Homo sapiens: one gene and its partner. The protein of the gene in region 2 purifies or fractionates together with the protein of the main gene of each other region. This does not show direct contact. Each region holds a gene or a part of one and is shown on either strand. Other genes may lie near its edges.

Region 1 (4,695 bases), on a different chromosome or scaffold from region 2:
TGAAATAATGGGGAACACATTTATTTTCCTGCCTTCATCAACCAGGAAACCAGGCAACATATAATACAATAGTGGTTTTCAGATACTGAGCAAAAGGCAGTGCAGGGCAGTGATCCTTGAGAAAGGAAACAAATGAGGGGAGTCCTATGAGTGCTCTAACTCGCTGTCCAGAGTGTTTCTAGGCCACGCACAGGGAGAGGGAAGCTTAACAAATCTCAAGCAAAAAAAAAAAAAAACAAAAAAAAACTGCCACAACACTTCTTTAGGGAAAGAACTGTTTGTTGAACAAATGGTGCTGGGACAACTGGATATACATGTGAAAAAAATGTAGTAAGTTAAACATAAAACTACCATAAACCCAGCAATTCCACTCCTGGGTATTTACCCAAGAAAAATGAAAATAAATGTCCATACAAAGACTTGTAGGAGAATGTTCACAGCAGTATTATGGATAGGCAAAATGTGATATATCCATACAGTGCAATACTATTCAGCAATAAAAAGCAATGAACCACTGATACATGCAATTAATACTTCATGGATGAACCTCAAAAACGTTATACTAAGGAAATAAGCCAGGCATAAGAGATCACACATTGTATGATTTATATGAAATATCCAGAAAAGGCAAATTTATAGAGACAGAAAGTTAGTGGTTCTCTGGGCTGGGGGTAATGGGGATTAACTGTAAATGAACAAGAGAGATCTTACGGTAGGATGAAAATATTCTAAAACTTATTTATGGTAATGACTGTACTACTCGAGAAAGTTACTAAACATCTGTTTTTTCTTTCTTTCTTCCTTTCTTTCCTCCCCCCTTCCTTCTCTTCCTCCCCTTCCCTCCCTCCCTTCTCTCTCCCTCCCTCCCTCTTTCTCTTCTGTTCTCGTCTCTTCTCTTTTTTCTTTTTTTGAGACAGGGTCTCACTGTCACCATCTCAGCTCACTGCAACCTCTGCCTCCCGGACTCAAGCAATTCTCCTGCCTCACTTTCTTGAGTAGCTGGGACTACAGGCGTGCACCACCATGCCCGGCTAATTTTTGTATTTTGAGTACAGACAGGGTTTCATCATGTTGGCCAGGCTGGTCTCGAACTCCTGACCTCAAATGACCCGCCCACCTCGGCCTCCCAAAGTGCTGGATAGTATGCCAAAGGTCTTATAATTTAAAGAATTAAGGCTACATATGTATCTTAATGGCTCCAAAAGGTTTCCTAACACATTTCTGAAAATCAAGTATCAAATATCCTTTTAAAAAAATATGATACATGAGATGGCTCAAAAATAAAAATGAATTTATAAGGAATTCTCCATAAATAACCAAAGACATTAAAACAAAAACAGAAACATCAAGACATAACAATCCTAAATATAAATGCCTGCCCTAATAACAGAACTTCTAATAAAATGAAGTAACAACTTGCAGAACTACAAAGTGAAATATTCAATTGTAATTGGTAATTTTAATAACCAATCTCAATAACTAAACTCAACTGATAGAATAAATACACAGAAAATCTGTAAGACTACAGAAGACTAGAAAAATACTGTCAACTCATTTGACCTGACGTTTATAGAACACACTCACCTCAGCCTCCTGAGTAGCTGGCATTACAGGCACATGCCATCACATCCAACTAATTTTTATATTTTTTGTGGAGACAGAGTTTTGCCATGTTACCCAGGCTGGTCTCAAACTCTTGGGCTTAATACACATTCGTGTCAAGGGCACATGAAACATTTACCAAGGCCAGGTGTGGTGGCTCATGAATAATTCTAGCACTTTGGGAGGCCGACGTGAGTGGATCACTTGAGGTCAGGAGTTTGAGACCAGCCTGGCCAACATGGTGAAACCCCATCTCTACTAAAAATATAAAAAAATTAGCTGGGTGTGGTGGCACACGCCTGTAGTCCCAGCTACTCGGGAGGCTGAGGCATGAGAATCGCTTGAACCAGGGAGGTGGAGGTTGCAGTGAGCCGAGACTGCATCACTGCACTCCAGCCTGGGCGACAGAGTAAGACACTACTTTGTCTTAAAAAAAAAAAAAGAAACATTTACCAAGACAGAACATATTCAGAATCATTAAACAAACCTAAATAAAGAATTAAAATCATACAAAGTATATTCTTTCACCAAAATGAAACTAAATTAGAAATAAATAATGGAAAGCTAGCTGGAAAATCTCTAAACATTTAGAAATCATCAACACATTTGTAAATAAGTTCATGAGTTAAAAAAAAAAAACCCACAAAGGAAATAAGAAAATATTTCGAAATGAAAACACATAAAAAGTCATCAGATAGAAATAAAGCAGTCCTCAGAGGAAAATTTACAGCATTAAACATTTAGGAAAAAAATATTGATGAGCTAAACCAGGGATCAAACTATGGCCCACAGCCCATTTTTGTAAATAATTTTTTATTGCAATTTAACAATGTCTCATCATTGACTTATTGTCTATGGATGTTTCATGCTATAAGGGCAGAGTTGAGTAGCTGTGGGAGAGGCTATTTGGTCCACTAAGGCTAAAATATTAATTGGCCTTTTACAGAAAAAGTTTGCTGACCCCTAACCTAAGCTTCCATTGTAAGAAATTAGAAAAAAAAAAAAAAAAAAAAAAAAAAGCAAATTATTTACAATGTAAGGAGAAAAAAAGAGATTTTATAAAAGAGCAAAATTCAATGAGAAAGAAAACAAACATAGATTAAATCAGTGAAGCCAAAATCTGGTTTTTTGTGTAAAATTAATAAACTTTTAGTCACACTGATGAGAAAAAAGATATTACAAATATAAGGAATAAGTATGGGGATATCACTATAGATCCTACACAGATAAAAAAATAAGGTAATATTAGGAACTATATGACAATAAATTTGACACATTAGCTGAAATGAACCAATTCCTTGAAAGACAAACTACCAAAGCTCACTGAAGAAACAGAAAACCTTAACAGCCCTATATATTAAACATACGTAATTTGTAATTCAAAACCTTCCCCTAAAGAAAAGAACAGAGCAATATCCCTCATGTATATAGAAACTATAAAATTCATTACAAAATTTTAGCAAATAAAATTCAGAAGCATCTTTTTTTTTTTTTTTTTTTTTTTTGAGACAGTCTGGCTCTGTCACCCAGGCTAGAGTGCAGTGGTTCAACGGCGGCTCACTGCAACCTCCACCTCCTGGGTTCAAGTGATTCTCATGCCTCAGCCTCCCGAGTAGCTGAGACTACAGGTGCACGCCACCACGCCAGGTGATTTTTGTATTTTTAGTAGAGATGCCTGGCTGATTTTTGTATTTTTAGTAGAGATGGGGTTTCACCATGTTGGCCAGGCTGGTCTTGAACTCCTGACCTCAAGTGACACACCCGCCTTGGCCTTCCAACATGCTGGGATTATAGGCGTGAGCCACCACACCGGCCCAGAAGCATCTCTTTATCTGCCCATACATTCAATCTGTGGTGATATATTGATTTAAAGTATATATAGGAAAAATCTGGGCCGGGCATGGTGGCTCAAGCCTGTAATTCCAGCACTTTGGGAGGCCGAGGTGGGCGGATCACCTGAGATCAGGAGTTCAAGACCAGCCTGACCAACATGGTGAAACCCCATCTCTATTAAAAATACAAAAAAATCAGTTGGGTGTGGTGGTGTGCACCTGTAATCCCAGCTACTTGGGAGGCTGAGGCATGAGAATCGCTTGAGCCCAGGAGGCAGAGGTTGCAGTGAGCCGAGATCATGCCACTGCACTCCAACTTAGGTGACAGAGTGAGTCCATCTCAAAAAAAAAAAAAAAATTCTGGCCTCACACAGATACAGTTTGAAAAAGAGAAGAAATATTTTTACAGATTTTTCAAATAATTCAATTCTTTCATACTGTTTCAAAACTCGACAACTGGTAATTTTAAAAAGGCCAGTTGCAATGTGGAAAATTTAAGAATGTCAATATTTTTTCAAATAACTTATATGGAAATCCACTGGTCTAATGTGCATCCTGAATGGATCATTTATCCATGCATGATTCTGTAATATCATGCATTAGTCATTTGAAAAATACTGGTTCATTGAGTTATGCAGATCTTCCAGATGTTGACATACTATACAATATTTTAAAAAATCACGTTCAATAATATAAGCACCAAGTTCACCAGAAAACTAATTGGGAAGTTTTCAAGTTCATGGTGGCAGATACAATTTTCTAAAATTCTAATTTTGCCTTGAAGCTCAAATTTTATTATTAGTAACATACCATCAATTGTTTTTCTTTAAGTATCACATTCATGTCTTTCATTTACAAGAAAAATGTCTACCTAACATTGAAATTAGAAGAACCATAGTTTGTCTATCAATCATTCTTTTAAGTAAACATGGTATTTCATGAACAAAGTGATTAATTCTGCTTGTAACTCAAAAAATTTTACAAGTGCTCTTCCTCCAGATAACTACTATATTTCTTCGGTAGCCAGCACAAATACTTATTTATATTCCCAATTTGTCATACAGAATACTAATAAGACATGTACTCGGCCAGGCACGGTGGCTCATGCCTGTAATCCCAGCACTTTGGGAGGCTGAGGTGGCAGGATCACTTGAGGTCAGAAGTTCACGACCAGCCTGGCCAACATGGTGAAACCCCGTCTCTACTACAAATACAAAAAATTAGCCAGGCGTGGTGGTCGATGCCTGCAGTCCCAGCTACT
Region 2 (5,281 bases):
GCCATAATGCGGTGACACGATCTCAGCTCACTGCAACCTCTGCTTCCCGGGCTGAAGTGATTTTCCTGCCTCAGCCTCCTGAGTAGCTGGGATTATAGGCGCTCACCACCACGCCCGGCTAATTTTTGTATTTTTAGTAGAGTCGGGGTTTTGCCATGTTGGCCAGGCTGGTCTCGAACTCTTGGCCTCATGTGACCCACCGGCCCTCGGCCTCTCAAAGTGCTGGGATTTACAGGCCTGAGTCACCGTGCTCGGCCTAAAGTAGGGAGTTAAATGCAAAGCAATCAACTTTTACCAGAGCCAAACGCGCTGATGGAAAATCAAGGCAAACTCGCTGGATGATAAAACCCACTTCCTCTGCCCAGAAACATTCTCCTAATAACTTCCACACACACCCACAGGGGCAGGAGACAAGAGCTCTGGAGAGAGTTAAAAAAAAAAAAAAACAACGAAGCCCACACTTGCTCTACTGGGGCGAGGGAATCCTGAAGAGGCCTGGTATTGTTCAAGAGATGTCGGTTCCGTAGATGTTTGGAGTTTTTCAAACCGCACAGGCCGCTGTGCCGTTGCCCCGGGGGGTGGGGCAAATCAGCCTTTGCCAGAGAGCAGGGATGCATCGGATGTGTGCGACTCTACTGTCGGGACGGCAGGCTCCTAACTGCAGGGGCAGCCCTGAATCAGCGCATACATGCAACTCCCAAGCCCTCCTCAGGGTTTTCCACCCTCAACACCACTGGCATTTGGGACCAGATGAATTCTTTGTGCTGGAGGCCGTCCTGGCCCTTGAAAGATTCTGAGCAGCTTCCCTAAGCTGCCCCACCCATTGCAGGATGGTGGGATGTCCCACCCCAGGGTGGCAACCAAAAATGTCTGCAACCATCACAAAGTGTCTCCTCGGGGCCAACGTCGCCCTGTGGGGACATCCTGCTCTCTACAAAGCTGAAGCCTCCTCTTTTCCTCTATACACCTCCCTCTGTCCATCCATCCCTCACCACATCCCACCTGTACCCCTGAGAATTTATGAAGGAACCAAGGAACACAGGGTCCCCAACACTCTGAGATCAGGCCAGAGCTATCAGCACCAGTCTGAGAACCTACTTCAGGCTCAACGGGGTTTTGCAGCCTGATGCACGTTGCTATAAGAAAGTGTGTTCTGAGCATCACCAACTCAAAAGTCAACTTTCCCGATGAAACGTGTATTAATATTATTGGGACAGGCTGTTTCTGTCTCCATCTCTAGCAGGGTCAGACTGCAAAGAAGGGGTGAGAAGCGTCCCTCAAGGAGATCCATCAGTGCTGACGGCCAGGCCCTCCTCTGCAATTGGAAGGATAGGTTGGCCCCTGTTATGCCCCTATCCCACTGCTCTTCCCTACCCACCCACCCCATAGACAGGTACTCTTCCCTTTACTCAAAGCATCAGCAGCTGGAGTTCCTAAGCCCAGTCTGCTTCCAAAATCAGGAGTTCCAGATGAACACTGCTGTGGGTTTAAAAACTGTGCAACGCCAATGAGCCGACATCGTGCCACTACACTCCAGACTGGTGACAGAGTGAAACTCCGTCCAAAAAAAAAAAACCACCACCACCAACAAAAACAAAAAAACTGTGCAACGACTTGTTTGGGGCTTAGAGAATATAAGGCTTTCCACTCACTCTGCTCCAATGACCTGGAACGCCAGACCAGCCGGCAAATCTGTCCCTAGGGCTTCAAAATCCAGCCAAGCCCCTCACCAAGATTTACCACTGGGAACCCCTGAGTTATTTCGTGATGGAACTATAAAGGTCCCTGTGGCCCTGTCTCCCGTCTGCCTGTTCAGATGCCTCTGTTCTCCAGGAAACTGAATTCTTAGGCCACCAGCACTCCCTTGGATATATTTCCCTGACCCCAAGCCCACAGTAGGTGCAAAAGAAGGAAGGCAGGCATGAAGGATGAAGGAATGCATTCGCAGAGAGACAAGTGAAAAACCCGTTCATCTGCAGGTGCCTGGGGAACAAATGCAGCTGATAAAACCCTACAGAGCCATCCCGTCCGTGGTGACAGGTTGCCCGCAAGAAGGACATTTAGGAAGAAAAGGGAGAAACAGGAAGCTCTGCTTGGAACCTCCCCTGCAGGCTGGAAAGTCCTCCAAGTTTTCCTCTACGGAGCAGGCTTCATTATCTCTAATCTCTACCAAGTGAAAGCACAATTTCTAGGATACCCGGGACCCCTTTAAAGAGGGTGTAAATCCATTAGCAACTCCTCCCTAAAAATAGAGACCCGGCCTAGTCACCGCAGCTCTAGGCTGAGCTAGATCCTATCAACACAAATCGGGCCTCCTCCGTCCTCCCCAGGGCCGGGCGTTCCCGCGTCTCCTTCCTAAATACGTCCAGCCCTGATAAGGCCCGTCCTGAAGTCCACACTGCCCGCAAGCCGGTCTACTTAAAAGCCTGCCCATACGAAGAGCAAAAAATGCACTGACCATTGAAAAAAGAATTTATAACATGAAAAAAGAATTTATAACATACCACATCCGGCAGGGTCTCCGTTTCCGTTTCAAAGGGAGGGAAACAGAAAAACATGATTAAAGTAATAATTAGAAATAGGCCCGGTTTAGGGCGTGGGAGGGTGACCGTGGCTCTTTCTTCCCTGCCCACTTTTTCTGTTTTCCGAATTCTCCACCGCCGCAGATGGACAATTTGGTAAGCACACGTTTCTTTCTGCGCCCCGTGTTGCTTGGCGCACAGCACGCGCTGAAATTCCCGGAGCCCGCATCCACAGAGTATTTTTGAACATTTTCAGGGCTCAAAGTTTTTTTCTAACTTTTCCTTCCCTTCCCCCCACCACCCGGGTCTCAGGCTCCTAGCGATTCCAAATTTAGGCCCGGGACGCAGGGCGTGGCTGTGACAGGCAACTCCAGGGCGGCCTCCGCGCGCGGCCTGAAGACGCAGGTCCCCAAACCCTGGGGGTAGATAACGGGGTGGGGTGAGGGGCTCATGCAAAGGGAGAGAGATCTGTAAGAAGGTCCCCTAGATTGGGAAAAATCGGACGCACCTCTCCCAAGGCCGCCCCACATGTAAGAGTTTGCAACTCCGACAACAAACGCTGACTTTTCTCTCTGGAACGGCTCCAGGAAAAGCGTTGGGGAGAAAGTGGGCGCCTCCTCCGGGCCTGGGCCCCCGTGGGCACAGCGCGTCCTGCCGGGCAGGGAGGAGGCTCCGGGTGTCCCCGCGGGGCGCCCCCAACGCCGCATCTCAAGCGGATCCCCAGTCCCGGCCCGCGCCCTCCGCGTCCCCCAACCCGGATCCCTCCGCTCGCTCACCCGGGGCGGCGACCAGAACACCCAGCAGGCCGAAGAGCAGCAGCGCCAGCGCAGCCCCGCGGGCCATGGTGCGCCCAGAGCGCGCAGGGACGGTCCCGGAGTGCAGGGCGTGGGCGAAGGCGGCAGGACAGATACTCCCCCACGGGCCGGGTGGGGCGAAGCCCGGGGACTCGAAGGGGGCGGGTGAGGGGAGCGGCCCTGCAAGCTCAGCGCCGGCTGCGCCCGCCCCGCCCCGGCCTCCACGCGCGCACAGAAGGGGCGGGAACGCCGGGCCCGGGGAGGAGACAGAGGGGGTAGGCGGGCGGGGGTGGCCCAGGCAGCGCCGAGGGGAGTACGGTACACGCCCCGCCCCTTCTCAGGAAACTGCCCACGCCCCCTCACCCACCCACAGGGCCGTAGCCAGGGCGGCGCCGACCCGAAGCAAAGTGAACTACAACGTTCTCGGGAAAGTGCGGGTCCCTCCCGGTTTACAGCCCTCTGAATGCACGCCCGAGGGCGGCCCTTAACTGTAGTGGCACAAAACTGCCGCCCTTCTTGGAAACATAGAGCCCCCTCTCCCCACTCGCCCCTGCAGCCACTTCTCCGCCCCTCACCCCCTGGTCTCCAGTGGGAGCAAAAAAACAAACTTTCCCAGCAGCTCCCCTGCTCGGGAAAGTGCGGGTCCCTCCCTGTCTACAGCCTCCTAAATGCACGCCTGCAACTGTAGCGACACGAAACTGCCGCCCTTCTTGGAAACGTGTAGCCCCCCTCCCCACTCGCCCCTGCAGCCCCTTCTCCGCCCCTAGCAGGGACCCTCCCCTGCTCTGCAGTGGGAGCAGAGGAAACTCCCGGCTCCCCTGCTGGGAAAAGTATGGGGGCCCCTCCCCGCTGCTCACCTCAGGGAGTTCCCCAAGGGGAGCAAAGTGCAATCCTCTCCCTGCTCAGGAAGCCTAGGCCCCCGCTCCACAGGCAACCCCCGTCCCAAGTCCTTTCTAGAGCGTCCGAGCGCGGGGTGCGCAGCCGGGAGGGTGGCGGACGAACCCTTTGCGCCGGACCAAGGACAACCCTTGGAGTAGCCTCTGCGCTGGGGCAGTTTCTCCCCAGAATCCCCAGGACAAGGTTGGGAGTGGGGACTCCTGGTCACGGGAGTTAGTGAGGGGCAATAGGGAACGAGGTGCCTTCTATCTGGGGCACCTGGGCCCTAGTCCTGGTCATGGGCGACTCGCCTTCCAGTGGGCTTTGAGTTTAGACACCCTCCCGCGCCACTGGCCACAGCTGCAGTGCAGTTGTCGCCCTTCCCACACTTAACAATGTTATCTGTTAACACCTAAGCCTAAAATTGTATCCATTTTCCCGCAGGGTAGTGGAACAACTTTGCAGCCTGACAAATAACCCTGAATATTCTTGCATTCCACACTTCAAACTGTCCACGAAAAGAGTCAAACTAGGCCGGGCGCGGTGGCTCACGCCTGGAATCCCAGCGCTTTGGGAGACCGAGGCGGGTGGATCACCTGAGGTCAGGAATTGGAGACCAGCCTGACCAACAAGGTGAAACCCTGTCTCTTCTAAAATACAAAATTAGACGCGTGTGGTGGTGTGCACCTGTAGTCCCAGCTACTCAGGAGGCCGAGGCAAGAGAATCGCTTGAACCGGGGAGATGGAGGTTGCAGTGAGCCAAGATCAGGCCACTGCACTCCAGCCTGGGTGACAGAGCGAGACTCCGTCTCAAAAAAAAAGAAAGAAAAAAGAAAAAAAGAGAAAGGAGTCCAACTCTAACATATTTGAAGAGATTTATTCTGAGCCAAATATGAGTGACCATGGCCCATGACACAGCCCTCAGGAGGTCCCGAGAACGTGTCCTCAAGGTGGTCGGGGTGCAGCTTGGTGTTATACGTTTTAGGGAGGCATGAGACATCAATGAAATTTAAGAGACACATTGGTTTTGTCCAGAAAGGCGGGACAACCCAAAGCAGGAGGCTTCCAGCTTATAGGTAGATTTTAGAA

The links.
Region 1: the proteins of CD99 (region 2) and OSBPL11 purify together in Homo sapiens (co-immunoprecipitation; one large-scale study listed by IntAct). This does not show direct contact.

What each region holds. Positions count from the first base shown.
Region 1 is NC_000003.12:125,532,357-125,537,051, forward strand, and holds part of OSBPL11 (oxysterol-binding protein-related protein 11), read right to left. Parts: intron 1-4,695. UniProt on the Homo sapiens protein: Plays a role in regulating ADIPOQ and FABP4 levels in differentiating adipocytes and is also involved in regulation of adipocyte triglyceride storage. Weakly binds 25-hydroxycholesterol. Interacts with OSBPL9 to function as lipid transfer proteins.
Region 2 is NC_000023.11:2,689,445-2,694,725, reverse strand, and holds the start of CD99 (CD99 antigen isoform a precursor), read right to left. Parts: upstream 3,432-5,281; 5' UTR 3,366-3,431; coding exon 3,299-3,365; intron 1-3,298. UniProt on the Homo sapiens protein: Involved in T-cell adhesion processes and in spontaneous rosette formation with erythrocytes. Plays a role in a late step of leukocyte extravasation helping leukocytes to overcome the endothelial basement membrane.